3 linked regions of the Homo sapiens genome follow. The protein of the gene in region 3 purifies or fractionates together with the protein of the main gene of each other region. This does not show direct contact. Each region holds a gene or a part of one and is shown on either strand. Other genes may lie near its edges. The genes, in order: IRF2, MYH14 and IRF8.

What was found.
Region 1: the proteins of IRF8 (region 3) and IRF2 purify together in Homo sapiens (affinity purification with western blotting, with the first as the bait; one study listed by BioGRID). This does not show direct contact.
Region 2: the proteins of IRF8 (region 3) and MYH14 purify together in Homo sapiens (affinity purification with mass spectrometry; one large-scale study listed by BioGRID and IntAct). This does not show direct contact.

The regions. Positions count from the first base shown.
Region 1 is NC_000004.12:184,390,938-184,394,663, forward strand, and holds part of IRF2 (interferon regulatory factor 2), read right to left. Parts: intron 1-3,726. UniProt on the Homo sapiens protein: Specifically binds to the upstream regulatory region of type I IFN and IFN-inducible MHC class I genes (the interferon consensus sequence (ICS)) and represses those genes. Also acts as an activator for several genes including H4 and IL7.
Region 2 is NC_000019.10:50,210,111-50,213,836, reverse strand, and holds part of MYH14 (myosin-14), read right to left. Parts: intron 3,475-3,726; 5' UTR 3,472-3,474; coding exon 3,067-3,471; intron 1-3,066. UniProt on the Homo sapiens protein: Cellular myosin that appears to play a role in cytokinesis, cell shape, and specialized functions such as secretion and capping.
Region 3 is NC_000016.10:85,905,662-85,909,161, forward strand, and holds part of IRF8 (interferon regulatory factor 8), read left to right. Parts: intron 1-3,328; coding exon 3,329-3,500. UniProt on the Homo sapiens protein: Transcription factor that specifically binds to the upstream regulatory region of type I interferon (IFN) and IFN-inducible MHC class I genes (the interferon consensus sequence (ICS)). Can both act as a transcriptional activator or repressor.

The sequences.
Region 1 (3,726 bases), on a different chromosome or scaffold from region 3:
TTGAGAGCTGTGAGGAGGCTCCCTTGGCCAGGGCCGGGCTGTGTATACACTGGGCACTACCTCCCAGGAAGGGGCGCTGGTCCCTGGGGCCCTCCTCACTGCAGCTCTGTCCACAATGCCCACATGGGTCCTGTCTTTCAATCCATGCCAACCAATTCATTTAATTCCCAGTGCAGAGTTGACCGTTTCCAAAAGGTCTTCCTACATTATCCCCATCCCACTCAGATCCTTCCTTTACCTCTCACCCCTTTAGGACTTAGATCCTGGATTTCTAGAGTTGCATCTGCCATGTGGGTTACTGTAGGTGGACAGATCTGGGGTGCTCCCCATGATCCTCACCTCCTTGGATTCACTTTCTTTGGGATTGCCTCCCTTGAGTGTGGATGGAATGTGTCTGCTTCTAACAAATAAGATACAGCAAAGGGGATGAAATGGATGTGATCCTGTGTCCATGATCATGTTACATAACTCAGAAACCTGCTGGGAGAGGAAACACTCTGCCTTGCTGGCCTTGATAAAGCAAGCAACCATGTTGGGAAGGCTCCTATGGCAAAGAACTAAGGACTGCTTCCAGCCAACAGCCAGCAAGAGACTGAGGCCCTTAGTCCAACAACCTGCAAGAAACTTAATTTTGCCAAAACCACATGAGCTTGGAAATGGACCCTTCCCCAGTTGAGCCTCAGATGAGACAGCAGCTGTAGCCAACACCTCCATGGCAGGTTTGCAAGACTCTGCAGCAGAGGACCCAGCTAAGCCACGCCTGGATTCGTGACTCAAAGAAACTGTAAGATCCAAATGTGTGTCGCTTCAAGCCACTAAGTTTGTGGCTGCATGGCTATGGCAGCCAATCAGTTGCCATCCCCATTTGGCCTGCCAGCTGTGAGACACTGGGCAAGTTTCTCACCTTTACTGAGCTGCAGTTTTCTCCTCTGTAAAATGAGGGCACTGCCACCATCTAAGAGGATTACATGGAGAGTGAGTGAGAGGGTACATGGGAAAGGCCTAGCAAGGGCCTGGCACACAGCACACACTCCATACATCAGCACTGCTTAACACTGGGTTTGCACAACAGGCTGGATTAATGGAATCGAAGTCTAGTGATTACACATGACCTATGCTTATAAAAAGCTTTTTAAACGTAAAAACATTTTGATTTTGTAAAATAAAATATCAATGGTGTGCGATTATTCCAGTGTCCATAACCATTGAGAAATGCAATCACAGAGGGCAGAGCCTGTGCAATATTTAGGCATTTAGAGATCACTTAGCCTGAGCCATTCGTTTTACAGACAAGGCCTAAAGAGTAACTGCAATAGCTTCTCTTCCTGATGGCAACCTTTAACTGCCTTTCCTCCTATTTAGTTCCAATGCTGAATTTAATAACCCCATACCCAAAAGTATGGTAAATTTTAGGTGACGTATATTTCACAACACAAGAAAATCCAAAAGTGAAGCTCGTGTTCTAAAAGAAGCAAACATTTAGGGAGCCCTATGGGTCAGTGCCATGTCAGAGGCTTTGCATGCAGGTCTCACAGGGGTCCCACGTCAGCAAGCAGCTGCTCTCATCCCCCGTTACGCAGAAGAGCTCTTATGCTCCAGTGCCTTCCAGCTTTCCACCCGGTCCCTGCTGAGGGGCTGGCCTCTGTCTCACATCTTCCTGGTGGCAGAGCTGGGATGAGATGGCTCCAGCCCAGACAGAGCCCTTTCTTCCACTGAGAGCATTAGCCCCAGACCAGGCTCTCTATCAATTAAAGGCAAAAGAACAAATGGACAAACTGTGCCACAGGTGCATTCCTTAAACAAGGAAAGTAAGAATGTGGACTCCACTGGTCCCAGCCTGGAGTCTCTGGGCCTGTTTCTCAGCCACTGTTCTCCAGTAACTTCACACAAACCTGAGTGATCGCGGTGGGCTGGCCATGAGCATGCAGAAGACAGATCTCTCCACTCCTCGGACTGGGCATGTTTCCCCAAAACACCCCGTGCTGGGAGCCACAGAGACCCAGAGAAGCCCTCAGCCTCAGCTGACGACGATCCCAGCTATGAAGATGAGCTGACGTTGCCGAGCACAAGAATTGTTTCCACGCAGAAACACATGAAAACCAACAGAAAAAGAAAATTCCCCTCCTCAGAGAACCCTCGTGCTGGCTCAGTATCCTGAGGAGGCAGGAATCGGAACAGCCACTCCCAAGAAGAAAAATGAGGAACAGAGATGTTGAGAAACTTGCCAAAGTTGCCAACTGAGACAGCACAGAGGAGAGAAAACAAAACTGTACTTCTGATTCCAGGGCCTGTGCACTGCACACAGCAGCCCTGCTTCCCTGGTGTTCTGGTCTCTGACAACATTTCAAGATCCGCTTTCCATTTTATGCTTAGCTTTCTTTGTGCTCCAAAGCCAAGCTTTCTCTTCCTTTCATACGGGTTCAGATGCTCTTCACTCCTAATGACTCTCCATAAATATCACTGTCTTCTTTTCCTTTCCCCTCCAAATACAAACAAAGATACGCAACCAAGCATGCTTTGGGGGCTGGGATTCCAGCACAGCCCCAGTCGCAGGTGCAGGAGGGGCTGGAAGTCAGATCCTGGGGTAAGGCTCCCGGGTAAGACCTTGCACCGCCCATGAATGTGACCGGGATGCTAACTTCCTTTAAGTACCCAGTTTTCAGCTTCGGGGAAATAGCTGCAGATAAGAAAAGATACACATGCTCCGAACTTATGTTTTCAGCTGACACAAATGCGAGTTAAAGAGCGTCGTGTCTAGATTAAGTTCCACAGCATCTGAAGTCGTCAGGAAGATGCGCCCTATTAGGACACTGACAGTTTCAAAAAGGGGCCTTCAGTACCTTAGCTTAGGAGCAGAGAACCCTGAACCTCCCCCTGAGGGGAGCAGTTCTCTCTGTGACCCCAGAATCGGTGGCTCCAAGTGCTTTGTTGGATGCACTGCGCCCCGTGTCCTCTGTTTCCTTGGTTTGACCACCATTGCCACTTCCACGCTGACTTCTTACACAAGGGAGCTGACTGCAGCTGGGCCTCCAGATCAGTGTTACTATCGAACTATCAACATACGTTGTCATTTCATTTTCCCTTTTGATTAGTTTGAATTTGTTTTTGCTTTTTGTTTATTACTTACTTCGAATACAATGGAATAAAGAAGTCTGGAGTTGCTTCTCCAGCAACTCCAAACAAATGAAGAAGCTGAAGGTGTTCGTACAGTACCAACAGGCACATGAGTAATTCACTTAACCTTTCTGGTCTCAGTTTTCCTGAAAGCATCTAGGGTGGGAGGGAAGGGGAGGATTTGGATTAGATGATCTCAAAAGCTCTTCCAGTTCTAGGGTGACACTGGTTGTAGGTTCACTCTCTATCCAGTCCAGTTTTTAACGCCTCGCTGAGGATATACATATTGTCTAAGCAGGAACACTGCGGGAAGGGAGAGGATGCATTTTCACCTGAAAGGCTTTTTGCACTCTGACATTCTGCTACACTTTCTGGAAGGCTCTTGTTCAGCAAGTTTGATTTGAATTTCTTTCTATTGATCATATTCTCAATTACTTTCACCAGGAGTAAATTATTTTCAAATCGGAATCCTCTTAATCTCAAAGCGATTGTGTCTTTGCTCTGCCCAACAAAATGCAAGCCTGGTGTGGTTTCCCGAAGGATTCAAAGCCTTTACTGATGGCTGCTGGTCAGCAGGCGATCTCCACTCTCTCATTATAGCCAGTGAGTCCT
Region 2 (3,726 bases), on a different chromosome or scaffold from region 3:
CAAACAAACAAAAAACAGAACATGGACCTTGAAACACTGCATGCTCAATATTTTAGCCACTATCAGCTTCTGTTGGGCAAATGGCTTCCCCTCTCCAAGCTGTGGGAAAAAGAGGGTGATAATCCCTACCTCACAACCTTATGTGGATGGGGAGGGGGTCAATAAGATCATATTGGAAAGAAATTTAGAACAGCACCCAGCAGAGAAAGCAGGTACTCACTAAGTGCTAATGATCTTTATTAAGGCCCAATGTGCTTCCTGTCTGGAATTCTAGAATCTTCTCTCTCACATTCATTTCTTAGGCCCCAAAAGTCTGGCTCCCTGGCCACCACCTTAGCTCAGGCCCTACCACTTTTTCTCCTGAACTTTCTGAATAATCTTCCTAGTGCAATGGCTAGGACCTGGGGTCTGCAGTCACAGTGACCTGGTTTCAAGTTCTAGCTTAGCTGGTTCCTAGTTGTGGGGCTTATGTTCAAATCCTGCCCCCTAGTCTGAGGCTCAGCTTCCCCACCTGCAGAGCGGGGATGACAGCAGATACCTTACAAGGTTGCTGGGAGCGCTCAGAGTATTTATTAAAAGGCAAAGAGTGGCCGGATGCAGTGGCTCACCCCTGTAATCCCAGCACTTTGAGAGGCTGAGTTGGGCAGATCACTTGAGCTCAGAGGTTCGAGCTCTGACAAACATGGTGAAACCCCAACTCTACTAAAAATACAAAAATTAGCTGGGCCTGGTGGCAGGCGCCTGTAGTCCCAGCTACTCAGGAGGCTGAGGCAAGAGAGTTGCTTGATCCCAGGAGGTGAAGGCTGCAGTAAGCCAAGATCATGCTGCTGCACTGCAGCCTGGGCAACAGAGTGAGACCCTGTCTCAAAAAATATATATAAATGAATAAAAGGCAACTAGTGGATCCATGTTTTGGATGTCATCCTGATGTCTGTGGCCTTGGGTGAGATGTGGGGGAGTGGATCATGTAGAGGCCTCTTTTCCAGGGCTAGTAAAGGTGTTTGAGGATTTGGAAAGGGCCAGTGCAGACTGGAGAAGACACCAACCCCATGCAGGGTCCGACAGCCCTCGATTCAAATTCCACACCTGCCACCACAAGCTGAGGGACCCTGAGCCAGCCACTGCTTATCTCAGAGCCTCGATCTCCAAGTAGGAGTGGGACTTCACAAAAATATTCTAATCTTCCGCTTTGTGAACCTCAGAGGGGTGGATGTTGGAGCAAAGCTGTGAGACCCCACCAGTCTAAGCTAGAGTTTGGAGCATGACTCTGGAACCAGCTGCCTGGGTTCAAATCCTGGCGTGATTCCTTCATGGCTGTGGGTCACTTAACATCCTGAACATCAGGTGATATCAGCAGTCCCTGGCCCAGAGGGAAGCTGATAACTCACACGCCACACTTAGAACAGTGCTTGGCACATCACGAGTGCTCGATTAAATATTTGCTAGCCTCCTCTTATTATTATTTTTCATTATGATTGTCCATATTCCTTGTCAATCTCTCTAATCCTGTTTGCTCTTTTGTTCAATGAAATTAATAACCCCTTGGCTGCCCATTAGAACCTCCTTGGAAGCTTATTAAAAATACCAATGTTCATGTCACAGCCCCAGAGAGCTCGACTGAAAGTTCTGGGGTGGGGCTCCGTCACTGGTATTTTCTAAGAATTCCCCAAATGATTCTACCATAGAGGTGGGGTTAAGAACCACTGCTCTACCCCATCCGTTTGCTGTAAAGAGTTTTAAAAATGCAACGAACCTCCAATGCTTAGCACAGACGTGGGAAGACTACCATAGTCAACCTAAGTATCATCAATCTCTTCTCAATGGGTTTTTGTATTGTTTCGTTTTGTTTGAGACAGGGTCTTGATTTGTTACCCAGGCTGGAGTACAGTAGCGCCATCACAGCTCACTGCAGCCTCCACCTTCAGGGCTCAGGTGATTCTCCCACCTCAGCCTCCCAAGTAACTGGGACTACAAGAGTGTGCCACCATGCCCAGCTAATTTATTGTATTTTTTTTTTTTTTGCAGGGATGGGGTTTTGCCATGCCCAGGATGGTCCCGAACTCCTGGGCTCAAGCAATCCACCCACCTCAGCCTCTCAAAGTACTGAGATTACAGGCATGAACCACCATTCCCAGCCCCATCTCAATCTTAAGAGGCACCACAGCAAAGTGAGAAGACAGACTACCTGGCTCTGTCAGGTCTAATTGTGTGACCTTGAACTCTCTGTGCCTCAGTTTTCTTACCTGTAAAATGAGGATCAGATGCTTTATAATTCTGAAAATGTACAGAGGCAATGTATTTTAGAAAGCTTGGAAGAATGGTTGGTAAATGTTTAATAAATGTTCATTTTTATTGTTATTAACTCTCTCTGGGCCTCATTTGCCTCTTAGGTAAAATGGTAATAATAATAGACTCTATCTTTCCTATGGTGAGATTGAATGAATTAATAGATAGGCATTTAGCACAGAGCCTAGCATAAGGTTTTTGCTTTTTGTCTTTTTTTGAGACAGGGTCTTGTGCTGTCACCCAGGCTGGAGTGCAGTGGTATCATCATAGCTCACTGCAGCCTTGACCTCCCGGGCTCAAGTGATCCTCCTGCCTCAGTCTTCCTAGAAGGTGAGACTAAAGGCACGGGCCACCACCACACCTGGCTAATTTATCTTTTTTTAAGAGATAGGGTCTCGTTTTGTTGCCCAGGCTGGTCTTGAACCTCAAGCAACACATTTCTATACTCAGTGATTCACATTAATGATTGTCACACATCTGTTTCCGTTCCTTAAAACTCGGGATGAGCTATATCTGAGAAATTGGAACGTTTTATACTTTAGGAAAATAATACAGTTTATCTACCATATGTATCATGCAATGTCCCCAGTAGGTTCCGAGGCTGTCCTAGTAATCCAACAATTCATAATTTGGCAACCATGTAAGTGTAGGAACAGTCACGGGACATGGGATACAGATGATAAACAGCCTCAAGTTAATGCAGGGGAGCCGGGTGGTGGACCTGGTTCCCCAACCGGCAGCAACTCCGCCGCACGCGCCCCCCAGCAGGAGCCCACTCACGTAGATGAGGCCGGAGTAGTACCGCTCCCGGAGGTTGTGCAGGACCGAGGCCTCGTTGAGGCAGGTCAGCTCGGCCATGTCCTCGGCCTTGCTGAACTTGGGCGGGTTCATGCGCTGGATCTGGTCCCGCGGCAGTCGCAGCCGCCTCCCGCTCTCCGCCAGCTCCACCTCCGCCTCCTCCTCGCCTTCGTCCCGCAGCGCCGCCGCCTCGAACCCGTGAAGCTCCGAAGGCACCCACACGAGACGCCGGGCCGTCCACTCCACCTGCGGGGAGGTGCCCGAGCCAGGCCCGCCACCCGCGCTGGGCCCGCGGGGCGTGAACAGGAACGGCTGGGCCGCCTCGGGCACTGGGCCCGGCCTGGGGGGCGCCTTCCGCCCGGGCACCGACATGGTCACGGCTGCCATGGTCTGCAGGGGCAAAGAAAGAGGGTGGGGGTCAGATGGGGCTCCGTCCCCCGGGCCTCCCTTCCCTACCCCAAATTCCCCAGGCAGCCACCTCTGCCTTCCTTTACCAGACCTCTTGCCATACTTCTGCAAAGTGGGTTAACAGACCCAGCTTACTCATTTCATTCATTCACCTCTCTAGGCACTCATTCATTCTTTAATAAGCTAGGCTGTGAACCAGGCTCAGAGGGTCAGTTCTTTTTTTTTTTTTTTTTT
Region 3 (3,500 bases):
AGGCCTGTCTCTGTGACGTTGGCCGGATAGATCTTTGGCTGTTGGATGAAGTCAACCTCGGTCAGGTAGAGCCATCTTAGGGATTTTCCGGTTATGTAGACACTTGTTTCTTTCAACTGTTCAAAGAAAACCTTTCAACAATTTAGGAGTTAAGAAAGAAATTTATGAGTTTGGTTTCTTCCGTAATAAGTGGATGGTAAAAGGGGCCACTTATACCAGAAAATCCCTCATTGTCTGCAGGCATCATCCTGAGGCCGGCCTCATGGTATAGATCACAGAAGAGAAATTGAAAAAACATTGAGCTCATTTTGTACCGACCCTGAGTACACTGATGAGGCCCTGATAGCAACTCATTTAATTTTTAAAAAGTACTTTACCTTCTTGACATGACGACAAGGGGGGAAAATCTAGTTAAGTGAGGATTATGATTCATGGTTATTCCAGGCATCGTAACAGTCCTGAATGAGTTAAAGCTCACTTAGTAGCACAGATATTTCTCATTCAGCAGGCCTTGAAGGGAAAAATAGCATTTAATTAAAAAAATGCAACATGAAACAATCATATTAAATTAGGAAGACCTCCTGGTCTTAGTTCAGTGCTGTCAGCCTGAGTTGTGCGTCAACAGGAGAAATAAGTTATGGTGGAGGCTGAATGAGCCATAGTGACTGTTGCTGGCGGCAGGGGTGGGGGGGCCCTGAAATCACTCTCATGTCTAGTTTTTGCTCTAGCTCAAGAAGGATCTCGAGAGATCATCAAGCTAAGTTGACCTTTTAATGCTGGCCAGAGAGGCTGGGAGAGGGCCAGGTGCCTGCTGTGTCACAGAGTTCAGGGCAGGCGGCAAGCCAGGTACCCGATGGTGGCCCTGGATGCTTCCTGGCCGTGGGCCCTGCTGTGATGGATGATGTGGCCTGGACTTGCTCGTGGGGTGAGTGTGAGCTTGGCGTGAACGAGTGAGTATGGCAGTGCCTTGCAGGCACCGCGGTTGCGTATGTGTACCAGCGGATCACAACGTTGCCATGAAATCTGTGCATTTCAAGGCCCGTTTGGGATGTGGGTTAACTCAGTGGTTCTCAGGTGGGGGAGGTATCATGATTTACCCTCCAGGGAATACTTGGCCATGTTTGGAGACCTTTTTTGGTTGTCACAGCTAGGGGAGGGGTGCTATTGGCATCTGGTGGGTCAAGGCTAGGGATGCCGCTGAATATTCTACAATCCACAGGACCACCCCGCCACAAAGAAGGGTCCCAGCTGATATGTCAGGCTTGCCACGGTGGGGAAACCCTGATTTAAAGTAATAAAAATTTGAAACTACAGTTGATTTAGTACATGGTTTGCTGGTTTATTTCTTTAAAAATAAACAACAGCAACAAAACCCAAATTAATGCCCGGTCAGTGATGCAGTCAATGAAGAGAGCATTAAAGACCGTGTGCTTTAAGAAATAGTTTTAGAGGGGAGTTTTACATCAATGTCACATGAGGAAACTACCACTTATGCTCACTAATGGGAATGTTCTTCCAGTCTCTTTACCCCAGGTAGAGGTGCAACATTTTGCATCAACAAAGTAGGCAGCATTGGCCTTGAACAGTAAGCATTCTTGTCTTTTTTGAGAGGAAAAACAGTCTGGGCTATTTTAAAGGAGCTGTGACTCATGGGGGCATGATGGAGTTTCTGGAAGTGTGGTCTCCTGGGTAGCTAAATCCAAATCCCTGGAATACTGGCTAAAGACAGCTACCTGGGCCGGGCGCGGTGGCTCACGCCTGTAAGCCCAGCACTTTGGGAGGCCGAGGCAGGCGGATCACGAGGTCAAGAGATCAAGACCATCCTGGCCAACATGGTGAAACCTCGTCTGTACTAAAAATACAAAAATTAGCTGGGTATGGTGGTGCACACCTGTAGTCCCAGCTACTTGGGAGGCTGAGGTAGGAGGATTCGCTTGAACCTGGTAGGTGGAGGTTGCAGTGAGCCAGATTGCGCCACTGCATTCCAGACTGGTGACAGAGTGAGACTCCGTCTCAAAAAAATAAAAAAACTAAAATAAATAAAAATAAAAAATAAAAAAAGACAGCTACCGAGACCCAACCTCCCTTCCCCAGTGAGAATCTTGAGGGGCAAGGCCCAGGAATCTGCATTTTCACAAGCTTCCCAGGGGCAGGGGGTTGGTATATGCATTAAGCCTGAGAACACTTGCTGTGGTGGGGAAACTGTTGGGTTGGAAGTGGGTACAGCTGGCATTTAATCCCAGACTGGGTGGCCTTGGGAAAGTTACTTACCTCTTGGAATTGCATTTTCCTGAAGTGGGTACAGCTGGCATTTAATCCCAGACTGGGTGGCCTTGGGAAAGTTACTTACCTCTTGGAATTGCATTTTCCTGAAGTGGGTACAGCTGGCATTTAATCCCAGACTGGGTGACCTTGCGAAAGTTACTTACCTCTTGGAATTGCATTTTCCTGAATGGGATCGGGATGTCCCTACAGATCTCCTATCATTTTAGGCTGGAGGACACTGCCTGATTTTTCCTGAAACCGAAGATAATTCTCATCTGACTGTGGTTACCTCCTAGTTGGTGTGTCTGTATTCCAATTTTGCAAGCTTAAAATCTGTCCATTCACCTGTCTTATTTTTTTAAAATCTGTACTGCCCCATTCTACATTATGACTTTAAGATTTCAGCTTTGAATTTCTGGTCCTAGTTCAGATCCTAAGGTTTGGAAAAGTCAGAAAACAGATCTATTAAAAAAAACACACACACATTAAAGGGAAAGTACTTCATTACATTTTAAACAGCACCTGGGGGGAAAAGTCTAGAATAAATGCAAAAATGCAAAACAAAATTTCTATTAAAAGTAACAGGGCGATGGATGACCATTTTGACTTTTTGCAAATGTTCCCTTTTCATGCTAAATTTTAGGGGTTGATCTGAAAAAGCAACAACTTGTTCTTTGTTTTGAACGCTCTGGTGAAACCATATGCAACTTCCTCTTTGTGCTGTGTAAACCTCAGGTGTCTCCAGCTCTTCAGCCAGGCAAGGGCTTGGCTAAAAGGTGCACTCCAGGGTTGGAGGAGCCTTCAGCCTGGGTTCGACTTCTGACTCAGCTGTATGAACCTGGGGGACCCCCTCCCTGGCTTGGGTCTTTCCACATCTGGTCCCCAGATGTGAAAAGACTCAAGACATCTGATTGGAGTCTCTTTGGGTCCTGAAATTGAATGAGAGTTGATGGCCAACAAAGATTCATGGGAAGGGAAGGATGTGTGGGGTCCTGGTCATGGTGACGGATATTTGTGATTGGAGTCGGCCATGAATTTAATGTGCTTCTGTTTCTTTCTTCAGGCCTGGGCAGTTTTTAAAGGGAAGTTTAAAGAAGGGGACAAAGCTGAACCAGCCACTTGGAAGACGAGGTTACGCTGTGCTTTGAATAAGAGCCCAGATTTTGAGGAAGTGACGGACCGGTCCCAACTGGACATTTCCGAGCCATACAAAGTTTACCGAATTGTTCCTGAGG